7 linked regions of the Homo sapiens genome follow. The protein of the gene in region 7 purifies or fractionates together with the protein of the main gene of each other region. This does not show direct contact. Each region holds a gene or a part of one and is shown on either strand. Other genes may lie near its edges.

What was found.
Region 1: the proteins of SIL1 (region 7) and COL14A1 purify together in Homo sapiens (affinity purification with mass spectrometry; 2 studies listed by BioGRID and IntAct, with this or other methods). This does not show direct contact.
Region 2: the proteins of SIL1 (region 7) and CNTNAP1 purify together in Homo sapiens (affinity purification with mass spectrometry; 2 studies listed by BioGRID and IntAct, with this or other methods). This does not show direct contact.
Region 3: the proteins of SIL1 (region 7) and ERGIC2 purify together in Homo sapiens (affinity purification with mass spectrometry; 2 studies listed by BioGRID and IntAct, with this or other methods). This does not show direct contact.
Region 4: the proteins of SIL1 (region 7) and PLXNA4 purify together in Homo sapiens (co-immunoprecipitation; one large-scale study listed by IntAct). This does not show direct contact.
Region 5: the proteins of SIL1 (region 7) and OMA1 purify together in Homo sapiens (affinity purification with mass spectrometry; 2 studies listed by BioGRID and IntAct, with this or other methods). This does not show direct contact.
Region 6: the proteins of SIL1 (region 7) and POC1A purify together in Homo sapiens (affinity purification with mass spectrometry; 3 studies listed by BioGRID and IntAct, with this or other methods). This does not show direct contact.

Annotation. Positions count from the first base shown.
Region 1 is NC_000008.11:120,229,022-120,233,344, forward strand, and holds part of COL14A1 (collagen alpha-1(XIV) chain isoform 1 precursor), read left to right. Parts: intron 1-2,445; coding exon 2,446-2,597; intron 2,598-4,323. UniProt on the Homo sapiens protein: Plays an adhesive role by integrating collagen bundles. It is probably associated with the surface of interstitial collagen fibrils via COL1.
Region 2 is NC_000017.11:42,689,031-42,693,353, forward strand, and holds part of CNTNAP1 (contactin-associated protein 1 precursor), read left to right. Parts: coding exon 1-17; intron 18-490; coding exon 491-597; intron 598-1,057; coding exon 1,058-1,177; intron 1,178-1,708; coding exon 1,709-1,912; intron 1,913-2,106; coding exon 2,107-2,263; intron 2,264-2,353; coding exon 2,354-2,481; intron 2,482-2,775; coding exon 2,776-2,961; intron 2,962-3,468; coding exon 3,469-3,690; intron 3,691-4,266; coding exon 4,267-4,323. UniProt on the Homo sapiens protein: Required, with CNTNAP2, for radial and longitudinal organization of myelinated axons. Plays a role in the formation of functional distinct domains critical for saltatory conduction of nerve impulses in myelinated nerve fibers.
Region 3 is NC_000012.12:29,336,434-29,340,417, reverse strand, and holds the end of ERGIC2 (endoplasmic reticulum-Golgi intermediate compartment protein 2), read left to right. Parts: 3' UTR 1-3,066; downstream 3,067-3,984. UniProt on the Homo sapiens protein: Possible role in transport between endoplasmic reticulum and Golgi.
Region 4 is NC_000007.14:132,177,709-132,182,031, reverse strand, and holds part of PLXNA4 (plexin-A4 isoform 1 precursor), read left to right. Parts: intron 1-411; coding exon 412-651; intron 652-1,299; coding exon 1,300-1,446; intron 1,447-2,110; coding exon 2,111-2,345; intron 2,346-4,323. UniProt on the Homo sapiens protein: Coreceptor for SEMA3A. Necessary for signaling by class 3 semaphorins and subsequent remodeling of the cytoskeleton. Plays a role in axon guidance in the developing nervous system. Class 3 semaphorins bind to a complex composed of a neuropilin and a plexin.
Region 5 is NC_000001.11:58,480,727-58,484,226, reverse strand, and holds part of OMA1 (metalloendopeptidase OMA1, mitochondrial precursor), read left to right. Parts: intron 1-3,052; coding exon 3,053-3,262; 3' UTR 3,263-3,500. UniProt on the Homo sapiens protein: Metalloprotease that is part of the quality control system in the inner membrane of mitochondria. Activated in response to various mitochondrial stress, leading to the proteolytic cleavage of target proteins, such as OPA1, UQCC3 and DELE1.
Region 6 is NC_000003.12:52,136,855-52,141,177, reverse strand, and holds part of POC1A (POC1 centriolar protein homolog A), read left to right. Parts: intron 1-2,875; coding exon 2,876-3,009; intron 3,010-4,323.
Region 7 is NC_000005.10:139,191,400-139,195,722, reverse strand, and holds part of SIL1 (nucleotide exchange factor SIL1 precursor), read left to right. Parts: intron 1-4,323.

The sequences.
Region 1 (4,323 bases), on a different chromosome or scaffold from region 7:
TGCACCTTACCTGGGATGTTAACGTAGCTGCCTCCCCAGGGGTCTTTGCCCTCCTCTTTTTTTTTTCTTTTTATTTTATTTTATTTTATTTTATTTATTATTATTATACTTTAAGTTTTAGGGTACATGTGCACAATTTGCAGGTTAGTTACATATGTATACATGTGCCATGCTGGTGCACTGCACACACTAACTCGTCATCTAGCATTAGGTATATCTCCCAATGCTATCCCTCCCCCCTCCCCCCACCCCACAACAGTCCCCAGAGTCTGATGTTCCCCTTCCTGTGTCCATGTGTTCTCATCGTTCAGTTCCCACCTATGAGTGAGAATATGTGGTGTTTGGTTTTTTGTCCTTGCGATAGTTTACTGAGAATGATGATTTCCAATTTCATCCATGTCCCTACAAAGGACATGAACTCATCATGTTTTATGGCTGCATAGTATTCCATGGTGTATATATGCCACATTTTCTTAATCCAGTCTATCATTGTTGGACATTTGGGTTGGTTCCAAGTCTTTGCTATCGTGAATAGTGCCACAATAAACATACATGTGCACGTGTCTTTATAGCAGCATGATTTATAGTCCTTTGGGTATATACCCAGTAATGGGATGGCTGGGTCAAATGGTATTGCTAGTTCTAGATCCCTGAGGAATCGCCACACTGTCTTCCACAATGATTGAACTAGTTTACAGTCCCACCAACAGTGTAAAAGTGTTCCTATTTCTCCACATCCTCTCCAGCACCTGTTGTTTCCTGACTTTTTAATGATTGCCATTCTAACTGGTGTGAGATGGTATCTCATTGTGGTTTTGATTTGCACTTCTGTTGCTCTCTGTTGAGAATTCCCCTTCTTTTCTCTTTTTTTCTTTTAGAGACAGGGTTTCATTCTGTCATCCAGGCTGGAGTGCAGCACCACGATCAAGGCTCACCACAGCCTTGACTTCCTGGGCTCATGTGATCCTCCAGCCTCAGCCCCCCACGTAGCTGGGACTACAGACATGTGTCATCGTGCCTGGCTAATCGTTTTGAATTTTAGTAGAGATGAGGTCTTTCCATATTACCCAGGCTGGTCTTTAACTCCTGAGCTCAAATGTTCCTTCATCCTTGGCCTCCCAAAGTTCTGGAATTGCAGGCATGAGCCACCATGCCTGGCCTTGTTGAGAATTATTCTTACCATGTTTTCCTTGCATTTCTGTGGGTAACTGACACTTGGCTGGTCTATTGTTTTTCCTACATTAGTTGTTTCCTCTCTCAGCTTAGCTTTCCCCTTCACTGTAATACACCTCCCAACTAGCTGTCAGAGTCAACTTGGTAAAACACAAGTTTGATAATATCATTTATTTACTTCTCTAAGACACTTCAATGGCTCTCCATTACCCATTTGTTGATTTGTTCATTCTTCATTTAATCCTTATCAAGCCTTCTTTGTGCTTTAAAGTCTTTTTCACAGCATCCAAGATCCTTCCTAGTTGGGTCCTGCTTCCCTTCCTGGCCTCAACCATATTTCCTATGCTTCCCCCGTTTTTCTCTTGCAATCCCGAACTCCTTTCCCTAAATGTGAGAAGTTCCCTCCCATTCCCATTGCCTGGTAGCCCCCCTGCAATGTTGCCAGGTAAATGTCAACCCCCTCCTCCTCTGTGACACTTTTACTATTTTTGTTGAGTTAATAACTATATAAAAACCAAAGCCCTAACAGTCTGACACACAGAAAAAGTTCAATGAATATTTTCTAAATGAATTAATAGATGAATGAAGAGAAAGGAGAATGAGAAAAGATGGACAAAGGGAAATGAAGTTAGGGTAGAAGAGAAAAGAAAAAAATGCAACAAATAAGGGAGCAGGCACCTTGAGAGATGAGCACGAATGTGCCAGGAAACACAGGTAAAGGAGTTTGGACAAGTACCAGAGAAAAGATCGTGTCTGTGTGGGCTGAATGGATAAAGGCAGCCTGAGCGCAGATTTGTGCTTTGAATGACAGGTGTTAAAAGAGAAATGGAGGTGAGGGCAGGTGATTGGGATGTGTGTTGGATGCTGGATTGCACACAGAGGTGGACAAAGTCTGGCCCACTGTGCCCACTTGTCCACAGAGCACTAGTGTGAGGTTCTCATGACCACTCTTTCCTTTGGGTTCCATGGGCTGTTTTTCTAGTCTCAGGGCTTCTTCCCAGTTCTCTTTACTAGTGCACATACAGAACTGACAGTTTTGAGGGCTCCATGGTCTCATCTTGTAAGCATCTCTTAATTCCACTTTTATTTGCTGCTAGTAGGTATCATGCCTCCCCATTAAGCACCATAGCTGAGCCCTTCTTGCCTCATATACAACTATATTACAGGGATACATTAAATGATGCTTGCTGTCACCCCACAGGTATTCTCTGTGGCTCATTTTGGAATATGATATGTTAAAAGTTTTTTAATCCTTGGTTGTGTTTATTCCAGTTTTCCAGACGGGAATCAGAAACCTAGTTGTAGGTGATGAAACTACTTCTAGCCTGCGGGTAAAATGGGACATTTCTGACAGCGATGTGCAGCAGTTTAGGGTGACCTACATGACAGCTCAAGGGGACCCTGAGGAAGAAGTCATAGGAACGGTCTGTATAAATTCAACTGACTAGAAACTCTGCAGATGTTACTAACACAGCTAATAAGACTGTCTTCGGAGATCAATGCAAACTTTACTGCTCTTTTCTCAGTGACTCTGCCATCTCCAGAAACTAATGTTCTCTGTTAATCTGACTCCACTACTGGCTTCTTAGTGACCTTTATAAATCCAAAACTTGCTCCATGTACAACTTGCTCCAAGTTAATAACCTCTGAACATTGTTTCAAATATTGCTTCTCTTCTGCTGCCTTGCACCTGTTCGAGCACCAAAGTTGGGTCATAAAAGGCCATATGCACTTGTGTCTGTATATATGTATGTATAGACATGTATAAAAGTTTAATATAGAAAATAATTTCTTCTGCCCTTGGAAATCTGATAAAAAAACTTTTAAGCAAAGGACACAGAAAAGGTCTTCTATATGGTATAGTGAAAATATTCTTAATAAAATACCATCCGTTAACCAATAGTTATATTTTTCATTGACATCAACTCGTATTGAGTAGATTTATAGTCATTTCTAATTATTCGTAACATGGATGTATCCCCTCAGGGATTTAGATTTTTATACATTGAGTTTTCTTTGAGTTGTTTTATCTATCTTTCCTTTTTCTAAATGATACACTCTTTTTTTCTAATTTATTTATCTTTTTTTAATATACTTAAGTTCTGGGATACATGTGCAGAACATGCAGGTTTTTTACATAGGTATACATGGACCATGGTAGTTTGCTGCACCCATCAACCCGTCATCTACATTAAGTATTTCTCCTAATGCTATCCCTCCCCTTGCCCCACAACCCCAACAGGACCCAGTGTGTAATGTTCCCCTCCCTGTGTCCATGTGTTCTCATTGTTCAACTCCCACTTATGAGTGAGAACATGTAGTGTTTGGTTGCCTGTTCCTGTGTTAGTTTGCAGAGAATGATGGTTTCCAGCTTCATCCATGTCCCTGCAAAGGACATGAACTCATCCTTTTTTATGGCTGCATAGTATTCCATGGTGTATATGTGCCACATTTTCTTTATCCAGTCTATCATTGATGGGCATTTGGGCTGGTTCCAAGTCTTTGCTATTGTGAGTAGTGCTGCAATAAACATGTGTGGATGTATTGTTATAGTAGAATGATTTATAATGCTTTGGGTATACACCCAGTAATGGGATTGCTGGGTCAAATGGTATTTCTAGTTCTAGGTCTTTGAGGAATCGCTACACTGCCTTCCACAATGGTTGAGCTAATTTACAGTCTCACCAACAGTGTAAAAGTGTTCCTATTTCTCCACATCCTCTCTAGCATCTGTTGTTTCCTGACTTTTTAATGATTGCCGTTCTAACTGGCATGAGATGATATCTCATTGTGGTTTTGATTTGAGTTTTTCTAATGACCAACGATGATGAGCTTTTTTTCATATGTTTGTTGGCTGCATAAATGTATTCTTTTGAGAAAGTGACTGTTAATATCCTTCTCCCACTTTTTGATGGAGTTGTTTGTTTTTTTCTTGTAAATTGGTTTAAGTTCCTTGTAGGTTCTGGATATTAGCCATTTGTCAGATGAGTAGATTGCAAAAATTTTCTCCCATTCTGTAGGTTGCCTGTTCACTCTGATGATAGTTTCTTTAGCTGTGCAGAAGCTCTTTAGTTTAATTAGATCCCATTTGTCTATTTTGGCTTTTGTTGCCATTGCTTTTGGTGTTTTAGTCATGAAGTCTTTGCCCAT
Region 2 (4,323 bases), on a different chromosome or scaffold from region 7:
TGTGGCATCACTGATAGGTACCCAGAAGCCCCTAACAAGAGATGACCCCTCCAAAGCCCTCTTCCCTGGTCTCCCAGTAGGAATGGCCTCTTTCAATAATCTCCCTTCTCCTTGTCTCTGCTCCTTAGTCCCCTGCTTGGGGATGATTCTTCTTTGATCTCTTACCTCCTATTTCTTCCCTTAAGGTGATACATGCTCAGGATGGAAATGACACATTTGCTTTTGGTCCTAGAGGGGTTTTTTGTGCTAGGGGGATGATAGGGGTAGAATAAGGCATGTTTTGATGTTTTCAGGAAGGGGGAATAGTAGTACTTGAGCCCTGAGGACTGCCTAGTGCCCCTGCATCTGCGCTTATACCCGGCTGGCTAGGCGGGGTGTGTCTCACCGGGTTCTGGGGCTTCAAGGAGCTGGGAGTGAAGCTTGCAGGGATCAGACCCCACTCTCCAGCTCCCAGTAAGGCTCCTTCCCTTGGTCCTGACCCCTTCCCTAGGTGCAGCCCTAACATGTGTGAGCATGATGGACGCTGCTACCAGTCTTGGGATGACTTCATTTGCTACTGCGAACTGACGGGCTACAAGGGAGAGACCTGCCACACACGTAAGCCAGATGTGGTATGGGGGGAGTCAGGGACAAGGGAGGTCAATAGAAGGTTGCTGGGGATCATCAGGCTGCTAGAGATGGCGAGGATGGCCCTTCCAGCCCTCTCGCTTTTTGTTTTTGGTTTTTTTGAGACAGAGTCTTGCTCTGTTGCCCAGGCTAGAGTGCAGTGGTGCCATCTGGGCTCGCTGCAACCTCTGCCTCCTGGGTTCAAGCGATTCTCCTGCCTCAGCCTCCTAAGTAGCTGGGACTACAGGTGCACACCACCACGCCTAGCTAATTTTTATATTTTTATTAGAGATGGGGTTTCACCATGTTGGCCAGGCTGGTCTCGAACTCCTGACCTCGGGTGATGCACCACCCCGGCCTCCCAAAGTGCTGGGATTACAGGCCCGAGCCGCCGCACCTGGCCAGCCCTCTAACTCTCTAACTGCCTTTGTCTCAACCTATTATCTGCCAGCTTTGTATAAGGAATCCTGTGAGGCTTATCGGCTCAGTGGGAAAACTTCTGGAAACTTCACCATTGATCCTGATGGCAGTGGCCCCCTGAAGCCATTTGTAGTGTACTGTGATATCCGAGGTAAGTGTCTCTGTTGGGTGGTGAGGGGGTGAGGGGAGAACCAGGAAGGATAGAGTGGTGGGTGGGGGCCAGTTAGACTAAACAAGTGAGGGTAAAGGAGGACAGAGGGGAAGGGCATACTGAGGAATTTGTAACCTAGCCTTAAAAGTAAATCCCAAGCCAGGCGTGGTGGCTCACACCTGTAATCCCAGCACTTTGGGAAGCTACTCGGGAGGTTGAGGCAGGAGAATCACTTGAACCTGGGAGGTGGAGGTTGCAGTGAGCTGAGATAGCGCCATTGGACTCCAGCCTGGGCAACAGAGCGAGACTTCATCTCAAAAAAAAAAAAAAAAAAAGTATATCCCAGCTTCCTTACCCATTCCAGCTATCTTATTTCCAGCCTACAATGCAGAGTGCCCAGGGCAGAGGTGGAATGGAGCTGCTGGCCACGTTCAGTGGCTCTGAGTTGCAGCAGCGGTGGTGGAGGTGGGCAGGGAGATGGGTAGAGAATGCCCAACTCCAGCCAAAGCTCTGTCCCCTCTTGTCTGCCAGAGAACCGAGCGTGGACAGTTGTGCGGCATGACAGGCTGTGGACAACTCGAGTGACAGGTTCCAGCATGGAGCGGCCATTCCTGGGGGCTATCCAGTACTGGAATGCATCCTGGGAGGAAGTCAGTGCCCTTGCCAATGCTTCCCAGCATTGTGAACAGTGGATCGAGTTCTCCTGCTACAATTCCCGGCTGCTCAACACTGCAGGTTAGGGCTGGGGTCAGGGAGGTGGCGGAACTGGAGGAGACACCAATGGGGGCCTGGGAGAAGGAAGCCAGAGAGCCAGCTGGGGCCTTGGGTTGGAAGATTCAAGGAGGGGTCTGAACTCGCTGGAAGGGCGAGAGGAGCCCAGAGGCTAATGGAGGGACAGGGCCTGGAAGCTGCCTGCACCTCTTCCCCAGGAGGCTACCCCTACAGCTTTTGGATTGGCCGAAATGAGGAGCAGCACTTCTACTGGGGAGGCTCCCAGCCTGGGATCCAGCGCTGTGCCTGTGGTCTGGACCGGAGCTGTGTGGACCCTGCCTTGTACTGCAACTGTGACGCTGACCAGCCCCAGTGGTGAGGGGGCAAAGGGACAGGGTTTTTAGGACTCCGGGAGTGGGAGGAGCTGAGTGGCTGGGGCTGAGCCATGACATCCTGCCCCCACAGGAGAACTGACAAGGGACTGCTGACCTTTGTGGACCATCTGCCTGTCACTCAGGTAGTGATAGGGGATACGAACCGCTCCACTTCTGAGGCCCAGTTCTTCCTGAGGCCTCTGCGCTGCTATGGCGATCGTGAGTGGCAGTCCCCTTTTGTGTGCCCTCCCAGAGCTGACTCTCCAGTTTCCAAAATCTAGGCCGCATGTCACTGGTGGTCTCTAGCTGGGGTGCCCGACCCCCAGCTCCTGCTGTGATGCGATCTCATTACCCCTCTGCACCTGGCTCCTCTTTCATTCCACTCCTTAGTCTCCCCTCCGTCACCTCAAACCCTCCCCCTTTGCCCAACCTTCCCTGCCCCCAACCCCAGGTTCTCTTCCTCCTCCACCCTCCAATCTCCCTGACAAGACCTTCCTCCATCTGCTTTTCTAGGAAATTCCTGGAACACCATTTCCTTCCACACCGGGGCTGCACTACGCTTCCCCCCAATCCGTGCCAACCACAGCCTGGATGTCTCCTTCTACTTCAGGACCTCTGCTCCCTCGGGGGTCTTCCTAGAGAATATGGGGGGCCCTTACTGCCAGTGGCGCCGACCTTATGTGCGGGTGGAACTCAACAGTGAGCAGGCAGACTGTGGGAGGGCCTCGGGGTAGATGAAAGTGCTGTCTGGGGAGACAGGGGTAGGCTGGGGTTGGAGCCAAGGGCAGATGCCCTTTTGACAGGCAGCATGGGAAGGGTTGAGATACCCTATGTTCTAGCCCTCACTCGGTCTTGACGGCTGGCTGGGTGACCCTAGGCATTCACTTGGCCTCTCTTGGCCTTAAGCCCCTTCCTTGTGCCATAAGGAAGCTGGACCTTCGAGTCCCTCTCACCGCTGATTAGCCATGCTTCTAGCCTGGGAAGTGAGGCTGGGAAGCTGGCTTCAGGGATCTGTGATGTGGGGAGAGACAAAGGGTATGAGGTTTTTAAGCAGCTGGTAAGTTTCAATGCAAGCTACAGACAAATTGGAGGGATATTCAAGAAGCTCCAAAGAGGTGAGGGAAAGAGGTTATATTGGGCAAGGATCTATGAAGGGTCTTGTAGGTCTGAGTCCTTTTCTCCCCTACCCTGCATCACACTGTCCAGCATCCCGGGATGTGGTCTTCGCCTTTGATGTGGGGAATGGGGATGAGAACCTCACAGTACACTCAGACGACTTTGAGTTCAATGATGACGAGTGGCACCTGGTCCGGGCTGAAATCAACGTGAAGCAGGCCCGGCTCCGAGTGGATCACCGGCCCTGGGTTCTGCGGCCTATGCCACTGCAGACCTACATCTGGATGGAGTATGACCAGCCCCTCTATGTGGGTAAGCAGCAACCCAGAGGCAAGTCTGAAGCCTCCTTTACCTCCCCATCCTCCAAGGCCACTCGCCTTGTTTCCAGGAGCCTCCTGTCTTAGGTGCCAGTCCCCTCTGCTTCAGAGCAAGCCAGTGTCTCACTTGTCCCTCCAGGCCTTTGTATCCTATTCTATTCTTCCAGCCCTCTTGGCTCCCTTTCCAACTACAATACTTCATCCTGTCTCTGGCTCTGCCTCCATTTCTTTTCTTTTTTTTTTTTTTTTGAGACGGAGTCTCGCTCTGTCACCCAGGCTGGAGTGCAGTGGCACGATCTCGGCCCACTGCAAGCTCCGCCTCCTGGGTTCAAGCAGTTCTCCTGCCTCAGCCTCCCGAGTAGCTGGGACTACAGGCGCCCGCCACCGTGCCCAGCTAATTTTTTTTGTATTTTTTAGTAGAGACGGGGTTTCATCATGTTAGCCAGGATGGTCTCGATCTCCTGAGCTCGTGATTCGCCCGCCTCGGCCTCCCAAAGTGCTGGGATTACAGGCGTGAGCCACCGCGCCTGGCCCTGCCTCCATTTCTTGACCTGTTGCCTACCCTTCCCAGGATCTGCAGAGCTTAAGAGACGCCCCTTTGTGGGTTGCTTGAGGGCCATGCGTCTGA
Region 3 (3,984 bases), on a different chromosome or scaffold from region 7:
AAAAGAAAGCACATTTTTTTAAAAAAGATGCCAAGTTTTTTAATCTAATCATTATATTATTGGTGTATTTTGGGCAACATAGGGTGAGTTATAAAAAGATCCGCTACTGATAGTGAAAATTACCGGTTTGTAAAACATTAAGAGAAAAAATAGGATATTTTATACATGTGGTGAGTGGAGAACAGGGTAACTTTAAATGAAAGTGTAAGGCAAATTGTAAGCACCACAAGATATATCAGATTTGAGAGGTGCCATGTTAAACATTGTCCATTAAACTATAAAACTGTATTATGAAGTATTTGCATTCAGGGTGTCCTGAATATGATTGATTCTGTATTAGATTGTGTTCTAACTTTCTTACTATTTAAGGATTGGTTCTAAATCTTCACATTATAAAAGATTAAAAACAGTGAGAGGGAGCTATCACACAGGTACTATTAAAAGCTGTATTTGGAATATGTGTACCAATATCAGTTTTCCTTTTGTAGTACTGAATGGCAGTAGAAGAATCAGCAGCCAATCCTCAAAGTTTAAATCATTTAAGGAAATGGGGAAACAAAATTCCAGGTAAATAACAAGACTGAAAAACTAGATTTAAAATAGTGGTTTTAGAAAACAGGATATCACAAGTAACAGTTTTTCAAATGGATTTTTTTAAAGATAAATTTATGAAAACAGGATAAACAATATAATGGAGAGAAGGAGAAATAGTGATGGGTCTGTTTTGCAGTAAAGTTTATGCAGAATGACGTTTTGCAGAAAATAACAGAAGCATCACTTTAAAAAATATATCATTAAGAGCCATGACGTTAACTGATGAAAATAAGTGATATAACATACTTTGAAAGATTTTTAAACAGAAAATTCTGAATCGTGAATGAGCCTTCTCTAGGTTTTAATTTTTTTTCTTCAAATTATTTCCAACAAAGTTTGGCTATAAACTAACACCATCTATCCACAGGAATTTTAATAGGAAAGGATTAGAATTGTAGACTGATTGTTGGTCCTTTAAGTATGCTTGGAAGAAAATTCAATCGAGTTTCAAGGCTTTTTCTAAATGGGAGGGAGAACAATATTGATTTAGGATTATTTTCTTTCATTTAGGATTAGAACAGTTAAGTGCCTTTAAAAAGGACTTTAAAAATTATTTTGATACTTATATATGATTTTTAATTGTTTTCGTATTTTCCAAATACCATATTAAAATTTTAATGAAATTTATCTCCTATGAAAGGAATTTCTTTAAAGCAAAATTCTGCTTTGCCTTTGATTTCCATTTTAAAAGTTAAAGGCTTCCATCTGAAACTCCTCAAATAGAGTCAGATTTTTGGCAATGGAAGTATTAAAATTCCGATCAGCCCTTTGGACGATGAAGTTTACCTGCATATTAGGATTTGTTAGGAGTTTTTGGCCTCACCAAGTGATTCTTTTCTATTGCAGAGAGCACTTTACTCACCTACCTGTTATGCAACTTTCCCTATGCCTGGAGGTGCCTCCAGCCAGGATACCCTACTTTGTTACCCAATTCTCCTTTTTGTTTTACAAGAGTATTCATAATATCTATATGTTTATATTCCAGACTACATATTTAAAAATGAGATCTCAAATTATATGAAATGGATTTTTAAATACTGTGTTTGCATACATTGACCTATAAAGAAGATTAAATATTTAGGTGAATAATTCCCTGCTGCAGTATTTGTACACTTCAGACTACCTCTTAGGAAAAGCTTAACTTAGTATTGCAAAATTCCCTTTCTCTTTTTTTTTTTAAGAGATGGGGTCTCGCACTGTTGCCCAGGCTGAAGTGCAGTGGCATGATTGTAACTCACTGCATCCTCGAACTCCTGGGTTCAAGCAATCCTCCTGCTTCCATCTGCTGAGTAGGTAGGACTACAGCCATGCACCAACAAACCTGGCTAATTCTTTTTCATTTATATAGTTAGTATCTTGCTGTGTTGTTCAAGCTGGACTCCAACTCCCGGACTCAAGTAATCCTCCCACCTTAGTCTCCTGCATTGCTGGAATTATAGGCACGAGCCACTGCACCTGGCACCCAAATTACTTCTAGTTCTCAAGTTAGATGATTAATATCACACTTTTCTCATGTATGTTTTATGATAGCATTGAATTTTTATAATTAAAAATTTACTAATGCAAACAAGATTTACAGTCTTTAATACAATCTTAATTTTGGAATTCATGAAGGAATGACTAAGTTCTAATTTTTTTTTTTTTTTTTTTGAAACTGAGTCTCGCTCTGTCGCCTAGGCTGGAGTGCAGTGGTGCAATCTCAGCTCACTGCAACCTCCGTCTCCCGGGTTCAAGTGATTCTCCTGCCTCAGCCTGTTGAGTAGCTGGGACTACAGGTGCGTACCACCAAGCCCAGCTAATTTTTTTATATTTTTAGTAGAGACGGGGTTTCACTGTGTTAGCCAGGATGGTCTCAATCTCCTGACCTCATGATCCGCCCACCTTGGCCTCCCAAAGTGTTGGGATTACAGGCATGAGCCACTGCCCCTGGACAGATCTAATTTTTTAATAGTGTAAGAGAGATACACTGTGCATTCCATCTATGTCCTGAGTTAGTAATTCAAGTACCAAAAAGTAATTTAATATGAAACTCCTTGAAAATTCAGAGCTTACACTTGAATTCAAAATGCCTATTTTTGATTGTTTAAAAGTTACTTAAACCTGAGCTTTAGGACCTTTAAAATCTCAGCATGCCTTTTAAGCTAGTACTTTTCCTGTTTTGAGCTCTAGCAAACCTTCAGCAAGCCAAGGTGGTAGCCCTTTTTCAACACAATCAAAATAGAGAGGTCACCAGTTGTTTACTACCTTATGGTAAAATGCCCGGATCAAGATCCATGTATCCCCCCCATATTGTGATGATGCAATCAAAGCATAGTTTTTTTCTACTTTCTGAAATATTACTGATGAAATCACTTTACATTTAAGAGGAGAAAACAGACTGCCTTGGATTTTTTTTTTGTCTTGAGAGAAAAAACAAAATATTTAGTATTGCAAGCATAAACATTTGGACTCAATAAATGACAAATTATGAAACTTTTTTTGTCTTTTTAATACTAGGAGAAAATTAAAATCATGTACCCCCAAATAAGCCTCAGTTCCCATATTTAAACTTTTTTCTCATAGGAAAGCTACAGGAATTTTAAGATATCACATGGTTACATTTGCTTTTCTTCCAGATGGAGCTAAATTGCTATATGATACAGGGTTTATTTTATATTTCTCATATTAAAGATGAAAAAGTGAAAATTGAGTAGTTGACTCAAAATTATATGTATATATATATATATGTTAACAGTTGAATACAAACAAGATTACAAGCAGTGAAACATTCAAATAGTTTTGGCAACTCCAAATATTTTGTGTTTCACAAAAGGAGTTAGGTTAACTTTTCCAAATATAACTCATTTTATACTATTTTAATAAGGAGAAACTTAAGGATGAGAAGGCATGAGGAAAAGTATACATTAGTGAAAGCTATATACTAAAGCAGACCTTCAACAACAGCTCATAACTAATAAATGCTTTGTATTTTGTTTTCAAGCAGTTATGTAAATCAATTTGGTGATTTCTTACACTGTACTTACATTTACTTGACCCAAATTGCCGTATCAATCACATCTCCTATCCCTTTTGCAGTTCCAGGTTGGAATCAGTATTTCAAATAAAGTAGGGACACATCTAAAATATTTGTGTATCGGTAAAGGTGTTTCTGGCTATTTAAACTCAAGCATCCTTTGCCACAGTAGTATCTCCGTTTTGCACGGTACTACTGTCTCTCAAACCAGTTACATCTGAAAACCAGCAATTACTAGTCTTAGTTAATTACAAAAAAAAAAAAAAATTAAGCGATCTAGGCAGTGAGCATTTTTCCATACCTTTATGTGGGCATATGAGAATCATTACTTCTTACTATAGGCAGTTGCTTATGTTCCCAGACATTATTAGAATAGC
Region 4 (4,323 bases), on a different chromosome or scaffold from region 7:
TGGGTCTTCCCAAGTACTGAGGTAACTCCCTGCCCATACACTGATAACCCACAGCCTGACACCCTTGAATACTAGGATAGTGGAATAGGGGGGAAGACATAAGGGCATTTTTACTTCTTGGGGTATAGACATGGAGGAGTAATTACTTTTGGGGTTCCCTGGGTTTTATACCTTTACTCTTGCATTCTTCCAATCCTAGCCATTGCCACACCCACTATGGGCAAAACCGGAGCTGGGTGCAAGCTATAGAGCCTATTCCTTGAGTGCCCAATTGTGTGGCCCTGACTCATCTCTAATCCTCTTGTCAACCCCTTGCTATCCCGATGACATCCAGGGAGGCCCACTATGTGCACTGGGGCTGTGGGTATGTGGAGATACTGCATAGACTCCACTCTGTGGCTCCTCCCACAGATCTGTGAGGTTCTGAACGCTACTGAGATGACCTGTCAGGCGCCCGCCCTCGCTCTGGGTCCTGACCACCAGTCAGACCTGACCGAGAGGCCCGAGGAGTTTGGCTTCATCCTGGACAACGTCCAGTCCCTGCTCATCCTCAACAAGACCAACTTCACCTACTATCCCAACCCGGTGTTTGAGGCCTTTGGTCCCTCAGGAATCCTGGAGCTCAAGCCTGGCACGCCCATCATCCTAAAGGTGGAGTGAGGGTGGTGGGAGGCGGGGGTGGGAAAAGAAGGGGCTGCTGCATGGAAGGGGGTGTTCAAGTCACAGACTCCTGCCACATTTCTCAACCAGCATCTCTTGCAGAGGTTGCAGTGTAGCCCAGAGTGTGATAAATGTTCTCTCTGAGTCTGTACTGGGAAGAAAACTCTCTTTAGGGGCCGGTTCTACCCAGGGAAGGCAGATCCACCTTGGCTATTTGACTCTCAAGCTTTTATTGTCCTGAAAGTCCAAGTACTGGCAGGTCAGGCTCACTGCTTCCTCTGAGGCAGCCTTGTGCGAACCACAGCATAGGGCTTCCTTTGGAACATGGGTTACAGGTTAATTAAAGCTTATGACAATTTGAATCAATTGGTAGTGACTGACTCCAACTCTGCATTGAGAAGGATTCTGAGGCTGCATTTGGGATAAGCTGAAAGGAGTACTTTGATAACTGATTAGCCACTGGGAGGAAGAGGCAATGGTGGTAGTCATGCCATGAATATTTTTTGCACTTATTACCAAAGGTGGCTTCTTCACCAGCTCACCAGCGGGATGGGACCTCCAGGTGGGAGGACATGAGAGCCAGCTGGTAGCTGTGGTCCTCACTCTGGGGTGGGAACTGGTGCTTTCCCATTTGTACAGGGCAAGAACCTGATCCCGCCTGTGGCTGGGGGCAACGTGAAGCTGAACTACACTGTGCTGGTTGGGGAGAAGCCGTGCACCGTGACCGTGTCAGATGTCCAGCTGCTCTGCGAGTCCCCCAACCTCATCGGCAGGCACAAAGTGATGGTGAGGCTGGCAGAACCCCATCCTGGATGGAGCGGGCAGTAGGGATGCAGATGTGAGCTCAGGCCACCAAGGCTTTCCAAGAGGGGATTCTGTCCCACAAAGAACTTTTCCTGTAGCTACCCCACACCCCAAGTTCTTTCTTCATGTTCACTTTTGAGCTTCTCTCTTCTGTATTGTCATTCTTTCCACACTGGCTGGTGCAACAATAAGGAAAATGCAAAACAGCATTAAATAGTTGCTAAATCACCTGCAACAAACAAAGCCTTCAAGGAGAAGGCTGTTGCTGGCCCAGGGAATTCCGTAATATCTTAATATCATGTTCTGTGCTTCAGTTGTCCACCCTTAGATTGGGCATAAATCTTAGGGGAGCCAGTCATTTGTGGCAGACTGTGTTTAGGTCCCAGTTGTGTGCTGTTTTCTTATGAAGATGACAAAACTCGCTCCTGAATAAGAGGAGGTGAGGTTTTTCCAGTTGGGGGTGAGCTCTGTTAAGCTGTGCCTGTCCCCGCTCCCAGCCCCCCATGCCCTCTTGTCTATTTTGACACCAGTGATTGGTCTCCTTTCCGTCATCCTGCCCTGGTCACTAGTTCATGGGTAACTTGGGACTGTTGCCAAAGCTGCTGCGTCCCCACACCCAGCTCCCTCTTGCCCTGTGTGCCCCCAGGCCCGTGTCGGTGGCATGGAGTACTCCCCGGGGATGGTGTACATTGCCCCGGACAGCCCGCTCAGCCTGCCCGCCATCGTCAGCATCGCAGTGGCTGGCGGCCTCCTCATCATTTTCATCGTGGCCGTGCTCATTGCCTATAAACGCAAGTCCCGCGAAAGTGACCTCACGCTGAAGCGGCTGCAGATGCAGATGGACAACCTGGAGTCCCGTGTGGCCCTGGAGTGCAAGGAAGGTACTGAGTGGCCCCATGCTGGAGGCCATGTGTGTGTGCGTGTGTGCATATGTGTGTGCATGCACATCTGTGTATGTGTATGCATATGTTTCATATACAAACAAGCAGGCTGGGCAGCAGTGGGCAGTGCTGGAGGCTGGCGGTGTGTGTGTCTGTGCGAATGTGTGTGTGTGCATGTGTGTGTGTGCACATCTGTATGTATATATGTTTCATATACAAGCAAGCAGGCCGGGCAGCAGTGAGCAGTGCTGGAGGCTGTATATGTGTCTGTGTGCGTGCGCATCTGTGTATGTGTATATGTTTCATGTACAAGCAAGCAGGCCGGGCAGCAGTGGGCAGTGCTGGAGGCTCTGTGTGTGCGTGTGCATGTGTGTGTATGTATGTGTATGTGTTCCATTTACAAGCAAGCAGGCCAGGCAACTGTGAGCAGTGCTGGAGGCTGTGTGCGCGTGTGTGTGTGTATGTGTATGTGTTTCATTTACAAGCAAGCAGGCCAGGCAGCTGTGAGCAGTGCTGGAGGCTGTGTGTGTGTGTGTGTGAGCACGCACGTGTGTGAGCACGCACGTGTATGTGTATGTGTGTCATTTACAAGCAAGCAGGCCAGGCAGCTGTGAGCAGTGCTGGAGGCCGTGTGTGTGTGTGTGTGTGTGTGTGCGCGCGCGCCTGTATATGTGTATGTGTTTCATTTACAAGCAAGCAGGCCAGGCAGCTGTGGGCAGTGCTGGAGGCTGTGTGTGTGTGCACGTGTGTGTATGCGTATGTGTTTCATTTACAAGCAAGCAGGCCAGGCAGCTGTGGGCAGTGCTGGAGGCTGTGTGTGTGTGTGTGTGTGTGTGTGTGTATATATGTGTATGTGTATGTGTTTCATTTACAAGCAAGCAGCCCAGGCAGCTGTGGGCAGTGCTGGAGGCTGTGTGTGTGTGTGTGTGTGTGTGTGTATGTGTTTCATTTACAAGTGTGTGTGTGTGTGTGTATGTGTATGTGTATGTGTTTCATTTACAAGCAAGCAGGCCAGGCAGCTGTGGGCAATGCTGGAGGCTGTGCATCCTACCTGCATACCTGCAAAGCCTCTCACTCTATAGTCCCTATGCCTGTGTCCCAGACCACACCCATACCCAAGCAGGCCCCACCCTGGCAACACCAGAGAGGCCAAGGTCTCCTTGCCCTCTCCTTGAAGGTGTAGTGATTAGAATCTCTTTTATGTGTGGCAGGCACACAGCTTTGAATGTTGGAGGCGCTTGGTGACTTAAAGGAAAGCTGCAGACTGATAAAAAGCCAACTCCCTCCTTCTGCTCCCTGTGGGCCGAGCACCCCAACTGGGAGGGGGCAGCCGAGGGGAGCTCCCACCCAGGATTGTCACCTTCACCCCACTAGAGCACCTTCACCCCACTAGAGCAGCCTCCATACCTGGAATCCTGGTTGAGTGGGTTTTGCACTCTACTCGAGGGGAGGTCTGGGGGTGTCTTAACATGACGCATTTCAGCAATCTCCAGCTTTCTTCCTCTAGCAGGAAGGTAAGGCTGTAGGGCTGATCTGTGATTTAGAAGGAAGGGTGTTTCAAAGCTTGTATTAAAAAAATTACAAACACCACCATAAAGTGAAATCAGCTGCACTAAATCCAAGAAGGAAATTTAGGAGTCAGACTCTTGTAACCCCCAGGATATCATTTTGTGACTCATCCTGGGAGGATCTGAGCTGGTTCTTTGCTGTAGATTTGTACATGGAGTAAATCCGGCCCCATACCTGGGGCTCTCACTTCACACCGATTCCCACCAGGGCAGCCACGGCTCTTTTTGATGGGGAAGTGGATCCATTCCATCCCCTCTCTACATCCTTCAGCTGTCAACACAGCATCCGCCTTGTGGGACTGTTAATTACTGCCTTTTATTATATTTACGCTGCTTAATTTTTTTCTCCGCAATGTACTCTTTCCTCTAATTAGGTGTAGTGATTAGAATCTCTTTTATGTGTGGCAGGC
Region 5 (3,500 bases), on a different chromosome or scaffold from region 7:
GGAACAATTCTAATGCCCAGTAACGGAGAAATACAAAGTAAATTACATGAGGGCAGGGACCATGACTATTCTGACCAATGTGTACCTAGCACCTTACTCACTGTGGTGTTCTAAATATTTGTTGTATTAAAAAGACTGAATAAGCGAATTTAAGGATAAGAGAAGAGTTTTTACTGAATACACAAAGATCTTAGGGGATGGCATCCTATTCCTCTCTTTGTTGCTTTGCATCTCTCATTGCCACACTCAGCTGTGCCAGTTGTTACCTGCTGGACTCCATACTCTCCCCCTTTACTGATGCCAGTGCAGTGCTTAAACATAGGCACTACACTGATATAGCAGCCATGACAGGTAAACTTCTCACTTGGGAAAGAAAATTAACATCATTGTAAAGGAACTAATGCAAGAGTGACCGTACGTCCCAATTTTGCAGAGACAGTCATGGCTCATGCCTGATGTCTCAGTGCAAATCTTGCTAGCATCTCATTTCATTCTCAAAGGTATCCCAGTTTGGACAGTAGGTCACCGTTTAGCTGAGGATCTGACTTTCTGTTTACTTAAGTGCTGTAAGTGCTATAGTTGGGAAACATTTTCTTGTTGTGTCAATTCAGTTTACTTAAACATTTACTTAACACTCACTAGATATAAGGAAATCTTAAATCTGCTGTGAAATACAAAGAAAAATAAGACAAGACCACTGCCACTGAAGAATTTCACGTTAAGTAATGTTTTTTCAACTCTCCAGCTTACCTTGGTAACTCAGAGCCTAATCAGAGCTAGAAGTGCTCCTAGACCCAAGCTTCTGCCCTGACCCCATTCACTTAGAGAACGTCTATCTGGCTCGCATCTGACTACAAGTCCCTCTCTCCTGTGGGACTCAATGAAATGTTAGCATACAAGAACCTGTGCCCCTACCATACCCCACTCAGGGTATCTGGAATAATGGAATTCCTTGCCCAGATATGTTTGAGCCTGCTTTCAGGGCCCATCTGGACCTCTTCCTTGAACACATTCACACAAGGCCCTTTACAGTGCCAGATAAGCTAGGGCTGGGAGAGGGGGCAGATGGCAGGCTAGTGGCAAGAGCTACACAGTAAGCTCCCTGCAATCTTACATGTTCTGAAATTCAAGAATTCTAGTTTTGTACCTGGACTTCCAGGTAATTTCGAATGTGTATTCTTCAAAGTAGGAGAATAGAACAGATTTTAAGTAGTAGTGTATTAGCTTGACTTACTGCTTTTAGGTGTTTAGAGACATGGTATCTGGGCCTCCATTTTCATTCTTTCCATGGACCCCACAAATATTAGAGGCAGGCTGTTTAGAGTAAAACTTAAAATCCTTAGCATGACCTGTGAGGTCCTACATAATCTGCTCCTGCCCTCCACCCTGCTCCACTCGGCTGTACCTGCTTCTTCACTGTTCCAAAACACCCCAGGCACGCTCCCATCTCCCTTGTACTCGCAGCTCCCTCTTGGAATGATTTTTCCCTAGGTTGCCACATGGTCTCTTTCCTCATGTCCTTCAGGTCTGTCCCCCTCTTGACCCCCAAAGTCATTATCCTATCAGTGAGGCCTTGCCTGGATAGTCTTTCTAAGATTTTACCAGTCCCTCAAACACTGTCTCCTTTACTGCCTTATTTACTTCCCTTAAGACACATCAGTATCAGAAAGCCAGAAGTCGTAAAAAACTGAATTAGCTTTTTCCCCTAAATGTCTTTCTTTTAAAACTCCTAAATATTAAGACCATTTATCCTTAAAAATTATTTTGGCTCTTATATCTTAAAATTATCCATATACCCACTTTGAAGAGTTAAATAGTTCTAAGGCTAGTTACTTAAATCAGCAGCCAGTCCCTCAACCCTGCCATCAGTTTCAGGGGTAACTATTTCCAATTCTATTGGACGATTCTTTTAGTATTTCCCATTGTGTCTAAATAACATGCTTATGTTGCTACATTCTAACTTCAATTTTGGGCCTTAATTATTTTCCACCTTACAGGATGAGACGTAAGCCCTCTCTTTCCAGTGTCACACCCTGTGCATGTGCACACACATGCAGCTCTCCCCTTCTCAGTATGATGAAATTGTACTTTTTGGTTTCATCAAGATTTGGTATTTTAAACTGTAAGCACTAGTCATAGCTGAGCCCCATAGTACACTGTGATTACTTTTCCTTCCTTTGCAATGTTTTATTTCTCCTGGAGTTAAAAATTGTCATGATTTTGATTTGTTTACTTTTCTAAGTATATTAGTCCATTCTCATGCTGCTAATGAAACATACCTGAGACTAGGTAATTTATGAAGGAAAGAGGTTTAATTGACTTACAGTTCCATATGGCTGAGGATGGCCTCACAATCATGGTGGAAGGCGAATGAGGAGAAAAGTCATGTCTTACATGGCGGCAGTCAAGAGAGCATATGCAGGGGGAACTGCCCTTTATAAAACCATCAGATCTCGTGAGACTTAATCACTATCATGAGAACAGCACGGGAAACACCCACCTCCATGATTCAGTTACCTCCCATGACATGTGGGAATTATGGGAACTGCAATTCAAGATGAGATTTGGGTGGAGACATATGCAAACCATATCACTAGGTTATTATCATCAATTTTACCCAAGACTGTATCAGTTATGTATATCTTTTTTCAGTATATTCAGTCATCTATGTTCTGCAGTTTTTCTTGAAAAAAATCTCTCATAGAGCCTTTTTAAATCTGAATGATTCTCCGGTCTGCTAGAGTTTAACTGAAACCATAGATGTATCTCTAAGATTTGTTTACCCTCAAAACAGCATTAGGGCAGTTGTTACAGATTATTAATACTATTGTTGTTGTTTTTAAAATAATACTATTTGACCAAATCATGAAAACAACTGTTCACTGTAGATTTTTCAGTGGTTCTCTTTTATGTGTTATAATCAAGATACCTTTTATTAAAAAAATAACAATACATTCTTTGTTTTACATGGAGCATATTAGGGATTACTGAAACAATCTGAATACATTGATGTATATATATAGTATTTTTTTATTTTATTATTTCTTTATAGGCTCTCAAAATTAGAGAGATGTGTAATTGTCCACCACTGTCTAATCCAGACCCTCGATTACTATTCAAACTCAGCACGAAGCATTTTCTTGAAGAATCAGAGAAAGAAGACCTAAATATCACGAAGAAACAGAAAATGGATACTCTTCCTATTCAAAAACAGGAGCAAATACCATTAACATACATAGTTGAGAAAAGAACGGGCAGTTGAATTAAAATTTATGAGACACAAGATATATGAAGAATGTTGCAGTCCTTATCATTTTATGTTACTTTTTAAAAAATGATGTTTGAAGTGAAAAAAAAAAGGATATTCAGGGTCAAATCATGTACATTACAGATATTATCTAAATTCTTCTAGAATTTATTTTTCATGAAATATTGATGTATTTTAATCTATGTTAAAATATCTTCAATGAGGAAAATGTCACAGAATAAATTTATATTAC
Region 6 (4,323 bases), on a different chromosome or scaffold from region 7:
TTCTTGGTATTTGGGAGCAGGGGCTGTGGTGGCCTCATCCCTGGGTCCCTGAGGATCTGTAGAAGTTTGATGTTGGTGTATCTTTGACCTGGAGTCAGAGTTCTCTCTTTGGAGTGGAGATGGGATAAGAGCCACAAGCTCACAGCTGCCACCCAGGTGGCAGTATGTGTCATCACTGATATCTGCCATGGAGCCAAGAAGAGGCCTGCGGCTTTGGACTTGAAAAAAAGTGGATCATGCTCAGACATTTGGCGCTCAAGGCATCATGATAGAAGGCTCATGCCCTCATGGGACAGCCTAGCCTTCGTGGTAGACTCTCATGCAGGGGTGGTTCTTACGATGAGGCCTCCATAGACTACCCGCTCCCCACCACCTCCACAGAGGCAAGAGGAGTGAGAGTGGAGGCTGGTGCGGCCAGTAGGTGAGGCAGGAGAGCAAGTGGGGAAAGGTGGGGTGGGTCCTGGTGTCTGGGGTATCCCCCAAAGCCTGGTATGCCAGGCCAGCCCCTCTTCTGGAGTAAATGGTTCTAGGTGTTTCTATCCAGGCTTGGGTATTCCTGGCATTTATGTGGAGTGGAGATTCTGTTGCCCTTCTTCTGGGAGAGATTCTTTCCCTTGGATGGGCTTGACCAGGTGGGGGCCCCTGGTGTGGCATCCATACACTGACCCTGCCACCTTGATGGTGCTGGGAAGCCCAGAGCTCCCTGAGCATGCCCTCCCTTCTGCACCCTCCTGCCACCGGCTGTTCCTCTGGCAGCTTCTGCTCATGGAGGGGTGGAGGTGGCCTTCATCCCAGTGCAGACTTTCTGGTGGGGGGGTCTCTGAATTCTGCCTCCAAGAGCTGGCTTCAGAGACCCCACTGGTCCCTCTCCAGCCTGCCTCCTGGAGATCCTGGCGCTTGGAGGGTGTTGTTGAGATATAAATATCATGTTACGTAAAGCCTTGGCTGTTTCCCCCTAAGTGTGCCTGGGAACACGTATCCAGACTCCCCGGCACATCGGCACATCAGCTGGGCTGGCATCTGAGGGACTGCGTGCACCCTGTGGGCCTTGTTGAGGGCCGTTTCGTGTTGGGTGTGTTTACCAACCCAGTAGTGGTTCTTACAGCCTTTCAGTGCTAAGATGACGGTTGGTTTTGAATCTGCCTTTATGTTGGTGGCAATTCTGACTTGGCAGGGTCATGGTTATTTTAGCCCCACTGGTTTTCCTCATTGGGCCTCTGGTAATGGGAAGAAAGACACTGGGGTTTTCCTCAGAAGGCACCCTAGGAGGCTGTGATACAGCTGATCCATGCATTGGCTGTGGAGTTGCTCTGTCCCCACGTAGACTGCCCAGGTGTGCCCCCAGCTTCACCTAGAACATGCTCTTGACCTTGAGGGAGAGTTGTGTAACCTGCTGGGGCTTCTGGATACCCAGCTTAAGCACCTGCTCACCAACCACTTTCTGAGTCCTGCTCGGTGCCAGGGACTTACCACCCCTGCCTGATGGAGTTCATGGTCTCATGGGAGATCCAGATGTGAGTCAGATAGTTGCATGTGAATGTGAAGAGTGAACCGATGGGAGGCTTGTGCTGCTTTGGAAGGACAAATGAAGGGGGTGGCCCTAATTGGGAGGCCAGGGGAGGCTTCCTGGAGAAGGCAGCTTCCAGTAATGAGCTTTAAGGTCAGGGAAAGGGAAGGGCAAGAGTCTCCCAGGCCCATTGGAAACAAGGGGTAAAAAAGTTCTACGGCTGGGGGAATCGACAGAGCTGGGGTGGCCGGCTCTTGGAGAGTGAGGGACACCAGAAAAGATGGTGGGGTTAGCCTGAGATGGTAGGGAAAAGAGAGTCATGGACAGGGCCAAGCTGTTGAGTGGGTGAAGTGGCAGGACCTTGAGTTGCATGGAACACAGGGGGCAAAGGAGAGGAACATCCATGTTGGCATTGGATGGCTCACTCTGCAAAGACCTCATGTGCTTAACTTAGTAGCATCCGCACAGTACCTCTTACACATAGGTGCTATGGTACAGATGGAGAAACTGAGGCTCAATGTGGTTAAGATGCTTGCTCAGGATGGATGTGGTGGCTCACGGCTGTAATCTCAGCACCTTGAGAGGCCGAGGCAGGTGGATCATCTGAGGTCAGGAGTTTGAGACCAGCCTGGTTAACATGGTGAAACCCCATCTCTACTAAAAATACAAAAATCAGCTGGACGTAGTGGCACACCTGTAGTCTCAGCTACTCAGGAGGCTGAGGCAGGAGAATCTCTTGAACCCAGGAGACGGAGGCTGCAGTGAGCTGAGGTCGCACCACTGCACTCCAGTCTGGGCGACAGAGTGAGACTCTGTCTCTCAAAAAACGTCATGGGGTGAGCCCAGGCAGGAGGCTTGGGGTCCGAATGCAGGCCTGACTGCTTCCTAAGAGTGTCTTAGCTTTCTGCTCGTCTGCCCCCACACACGTCCTTCCTGTGTGGCAGTGGCATTGTATTGACATTTGAAGGGTTTTGTTTTCCATTGGTTTCTTTAAAGAAAGAGTATATCGGGCAGACCAAAGGCTATGTTTGTATGTTTGAGTACTCTATTCTGCTCCAGCTTGACCGCTTGGTGCTGTGGGAGAGGATGGAGGAATCGTCTGCTGCCTCTGGTTTTTGCATCTGTTTCTGTCCGCCTGTCTTCCACTGCCTGCCCTTGGCTCTGAACAGGCCTTTTCCTGTTCTTCGATTGTGCCCCTCTCCTGGGAAATCCTTGTTGGGTTCCCCACAGCTCTTCTGAGCAATGACCATCCTGACCCAGCCCCATCAGGCCTGTGCTGAGCCTCGATTGGCCCTGATTGCCCGTCTTGGGCTTCAGCTGTGCTCCCTGTGCCTCCTAGCCAGCACCTGACTGATGTCCTTCCCCCAGTGCACAGTGCAGCAGTGAACGGGCTCTCTTTCCACCCGTCGGGAAACTACCTGATCACAGCCTCCAGTGACTCAACCCTGAAGATCCTGGACCTGATGGAGGGCCGGCTGCTCTACACACTCCACGGGCATCAGGTGAGAGGTGTCGGCCAGGTGCTGAGTGGTGTGGAGTGGTGGTACCTTCACTGTCTGGGCAGTGGGCAAGATGCAGAAACAGGCTTGTCACCCACACAGCCTGCAGGGAGATGGATGGAGGCATTTCCATGTGACCTGGGCAGATTGCTGGGCCTGGGACTGGTGCAGCTGAGAAGGGTATATAAGAGTTGAATTGGGCAAGGGTTGGGGGCTGCATCTGGGCATGGTTAGCAAGCCGCCCCTTAGGGGCCTGAATGGAATCTGTCCCCTAATGGCCTCAGCCATCCCTTGGTCCAGAGGTTGAGTTGAGCCTTGGAACCCATGCTCTGAGTTGACATCAGGGTTTCCTGGAGGCCCTCGGACTGGCAGACATCAGTGTGTCTAGAGACTGAGGCAACCTCAGGTGTCTTGCAGAGGCTGGGACAAAGAAGGGAAGTCTTCTTCATGTTTGTCGTTTGAGAATTCCTGGAATGGAATCAAGGAAGCAAAGGCCTCCTTTCTGAATGAGCTTCAAAGCAGCCGGTTCCCTGGTCTCCCTGGGTGGGCTGGGTCCCTGGGGGCCGGCTGTGGGAAGTAGGCCACATGCAGTTCTCCCCAGGAACTGGCCTGGGTCCGGGCCTTTCACATCTAGTACTTCCACTAGGAAGTAGTGTCCGAGCCCTCCTGATCAGAGCGGTCGTCAGAATGTCTCCTGTTGGGGCGTAGTCACCATGCCCACTTGAGATGGGAGGTCTGGAGTCCATTGAATTCAAGTCTGTCTCTAATCTGCCTGCCATGCTGAGGGAGGCCCTGGGGGTGCTTATGTGTCTTGGACTATCAGCTAAGTCTGAGGTGTCTAGCCTGGTGTTTTCTGAGCTGTTGTTTGGGTTTCCACTGCCATCTGAGTTAGGGTACCTGGGGGCCATTTGGCTATGACTAGGGGATGGGGACATAGGCCTTTTCTTCTACTTCCTCAAGGTCTGGAGGCTGCTTGCTGCCCCCAGCCTTGTTGTGACCCCTTGCCTTCCCTGTCAGAGACATATCCAGTGTGCAGGACTAGTGGGCCTGTTCTCCCTGGGCCAGCACATCCAGAGGGGGTGGCTGCTGGCCCTGGTGTAAGCCTGTTCACAAGCCAAGCCCCTGGACAAGCAAGTTATACAGATTCATGTGTAACCGTTTGGGATCTTATGCCCAGGAGGGCATTTGAAAATCATGTGAATGCTGCTACCGCTCCTGCTCCCCTAAAAAAAACAAAACAAAACTCAGAAACAGTTTGAAACAGATGCCTATCAAGTGATCACCTCTTTTTGTGAGTGTTCTTTAAACAGCTAACTC
Region 7 (4,323 bases):
GGGGCTCAATGTACCACTACATAACAGTGGGAATAGGGCCGGGCATGGTGGCTCACGCCTGTAATCCCAGCACTTTGGGAGGCCAAGGTGGGCGGATCACGAGGTCAGGAGATCGAGACCATCCTGGCTAACACGGTGAAACCCCGTCTCTACTAAAAATACAAAAAATTACCCGGGCGAGGTGGTGGGTGCCTGTAGTCCCAGCTACTCAGGAGGCTGAGGCAGGAGAATGGCGTGAACCTGGGAAGCGGAGCTTGCAGTGAGCGGAGATCACGCCATTCACTCCAGCCTGGGCGACAGAGCGAGACTCCGTCTCAAAACAAAACAAAACAAAACAAAAAAAACTGGGAATAATATTTACTTTGAAGGGTGGTTAAATGACGTATTACACATGAAAGCTCTTGGGACATAGGAATGCAATAAATGTTTTCACCCTCAAAGAATGAAGATTTGCCGTTAATGAGAATATTCAAAAGAACATGAGAGTCTCTGGCCGGGTGCGGTGGCTCACACCTGTAATCCCAGCACTTTGGGAGGCTGAGGTGGGTGGATCACCTGAGGTCGGGAGTTCAAGACCAGCCTGACCAACATGGAGAAACCCCGTCTCTACTAAAAATGCAAAATTAGCCGGGCGTGGTGGCGCATGCCTGTAATCCCAGCTACTCGGGAGGCTGAGGCAGGAGAATCACTTGAACTCGGGAGGCGGAGGTTGCAATGAGCCGAGATCATTGTGCCATTGCACTCCAGCCTGGGTGATAGAGCGAGAGATTCTGTCTCAAAAAAAAAAAAAAAGGCTCTGAAAGGAAGTTGTACCTTTTTCGAAATAGGTGGATTCTCTTTTTCACATACTTGTGGATTCATACTCTGACCTGCTCAGCCTCCCCCTGTCTTTCTTCATTCATTTTCTGTCCTTTCCTAAGTGAAGTTTTGCTGCAGAGGCTGTCTGCCAGTCTCTTGTAGTAAGCCTCTTTTCAGGAGAGCTAATCTGAACTCTCTTACAATGCTAGTCCCTTAGTCGCTATTCCTAGGGATTTTTTTCTGGGGGCTCCAGATGGTGCTTGGATCACGCTCTGTAGCACAGCCATCTCTAACTCCTGGATTTGGTGTCAATTTGGAGACCCATCCTGTGGAGCTAATCTTCTCTCTTTCTGAGCAAGGATGAATACTTTATCCTTTTCTGAGTCGGCCTTAAACTGCAAACCTTAGTCTTCTACAGCAGAGAGTCTTGTATTTTAATTATACGTAGACTAAAGACGGAATAGCATGCCCTTTTCTTTTCTTCCTTTACTTTCACCAAGGATTTCACTGCTGAGTAGGGGAGTAGGAGAATAGCCTGTTGCCATTCAGAGTGAGGCCTTGGGTAACCCCTGATTCCTAGCATAAGCAATAACTGAGTTCATCTTTGGGACAAAAACCTTGTAAAAGATTCGGGCTGCTCAGACACATGTGGAGAACCTCAAGCTAGGAATTTTCCTAGCTTGTGAGGAGTTTACACCTGGCATTCTTACTTTTGCAAATTTGTACCCAGAATCCAGTAGCAACAAAACTATATTCAGCCCAGACTTGTAGTTCCTTCAGGTTCCACCAGGCAGCTGTAAGACATGGCTGTGATTATGCTGGCTGGCCATGTTTGCCTTCATCCTCCTAATACTGCCCTTGGCTTTGGTATTGAGAAGGAAGTGGCATAATCAATTCATGAGTAACATTCTCTGCCAAAGTGGAAATCAGGGGCAGAGAGTTGTGAGCATAGGACTAGACAAATGGAAAGAGCCAGCCTTGCCTCAGGAATGCTGCTAAAGTGCTGTGAATCCGTGACAACCACTGTGTTTCTTGGTGTCACCTCATTTGTGAAATGGGAATGCCTTCATTGATCTCTCTCTTGAGAAGAGTGGACCACCATGCCAGTTTTCCCAGGACAGAGGGATATCCGTATGTGGGACTTTTAGTGCCAAAAGCAGGAAAGTCCGGGGCAAACCAGGACAAGTTAGTTACCCTACCCATGACCATTATACAAGTTAATGAACACTGTGCCCTTAGGGTTCATCTAAGACTCAACCCTTTGGGTTCATCTAATTATTTTTCAACCTTTTGTTCATTATCATATTTTGAGACTTTTTTTCCCTTAATTGTCTACTCCCCAGTGGAATGTTTTTTTGAGAGGGAGTCTCACTCTGTCGCCCAGGCTGGAGTGCAGTGGTGTGATCTCTGCTCACTGTGGCCTCTGCCTCCTGGGTTCAAGTGATTCTTGTGCTTCAGCCTCCTGAGTAACTGGGATTATAGGCGCCCACCACCATGCCCAACTAATTTTTGTGTTATTTAGTAGTAGTTTTTGTGTTTTGCCATGTTGGCCAGGCTGGTCTTGAACTCCTGGCCTTAAGTGATCTGCCCACCTCAGTCTCCCAAAGTGCTGGGATTACAGGCATGAGCCATCGTGCCCAGCTACCCCCAATGGAATTTTAATACCACAGATGTACTGTGTATCTGTTTTTGTATTGTGGCCCTTTGGATGGCCACAAACCATTGTAATATCTAACTTTTTTTCCCCCAAGAATCAATTTTCACCCCTTCTGGGCTGTTACTGCACTCACTGAGAATGCATGGTCTTATCTGATATTCTTTCTTTAATGTAGTCATCAAGGCCAGTTTTTTATCCAGAAGAAACAGCTAGTACCACAAGCTTTTTCGTTTCCTTTCCTGTTTTTTTTTTTTTTTTTTTTTTTTTTTTGAGACTGAGTTTCGCTCTTGTTGCCCAGGCTGGAGTGCAATGGCGTGATCTTGGCTCACTGCAACCTCTGCCTCCTGGGTTCAAGTGATTCTCCTGCCTCAGCCTCCTGAGTAGCTGGTACTACAGGCATGTGCCACCACATCTGGCTAATTTTTTTTTTTTTTGGTAGAGACAGTCTCACTGTGTTGCTCAGGCTGGTCTTGAACTTCTGGGCTCAAGCATTTCTCCTGCCTCGGTCTCCCAAAGTACTGGGATTATTAAGTGTGAACCACCACACCCAGCCAAGTTTATTCTTTATTGTTTTAATTTTCTTCCAGTCTTTGGATTTTGAGGTGGTCCATTTATCATCTGCTTCTCTGGTGCCTCTTGGACCTTCCATCTTCACAGCTGGGGCTGCTGTGTTGGCCCAGGTGTCCCCAGACTGGACATCGGAACCTTTGGGAAGAGTCTGATGTTTGGCCCTTGTCACATTTCACATTTCACATCTACAGAGAAATGGGGAAGGGTATGTTTCTGAGGTCTGCTCATAGGCTATGTTGTGACTGAGGAAGTTCTTGATCATCCCTTTTGGTTACCACTTATCATCACTGGCAGAAAAACATCAAAGTGGTCAGTGAACTCATCTCCACATCTGGCTACTTCCATCTCTGCAAGTAGTTTGCTTCTTCAGTCTTGTGATGGGAAAGAGATCTAGAAACTGGAAGAATAATCTGAGATACATCCTAAAGTTCTGGTGAGGAAAGCTAATGCCAATGGACTTTTTTTTTTTTTTTTGAGATGGGGTCTTGCTATGTTGCCCAGGCTAGTCTTGAACTCCTGGGATCAAGCAATCCTTCCACCTCAACCTCCTGAGTAGCTGGGATTACATGCATGTACCACCATGCCTCACTCGCCAGTGGATTTTTTTTTTTTTTTTTTTTTTTGAGACAGCATCTTGCTCTGTTGCCCAGGCTGGAGTGCAGTGGCACAATCTCGGCTCACTGCAACCTCTGCCTCCCAGGTTCAAGTGATTCTTCTGCCTCAGCCTTCCGAGTAGCTGGGACTACAGGCGCCTGCCACCACGCCTGGCTAATTTTTGTATTTTTAGTAGAGATGGGATTTCACCATATTGGCCAGGCTGGTCTCAAACTCCTGGCCTCGAGATCTGCCGGCCTCGGCCTTCCAAAGTGCTGGGATTACAGGCGTGAGCCACTGTGCCTGGCCCTTTTTAAGAGGGTCTCACTCTGTTGCCCACGCTGGAGTATAGTGGTGTGATCATAGCTCATTGCAACCTCCAACTCCTGGGCTCAAGTGATCCTCCCACCTCAGCCTCCCAAGTAGCTAGGACCATGGGTGTGCACCACCATGCCTGGCTAATTTAATTTTTTTTTTTTTTTTTAAAGAGACAGGGTCTTGCTTGCAACATTGCCCAGGCTGATCTTAAATTCCTGGCCTCAAGTGATGCCCTACCTTGGCCTTCTAGAGCACTGGGATTACAAGTGTGAGCCACCATGCCCAGCTATACCAGTGGGCTTTTAAATGGACATTTCTTTACCTCTGGGGATAGTCTCATTTTTGTGAGGCTCCCAAGGGGAAAGCAGCCATCTGACCAAACTAGA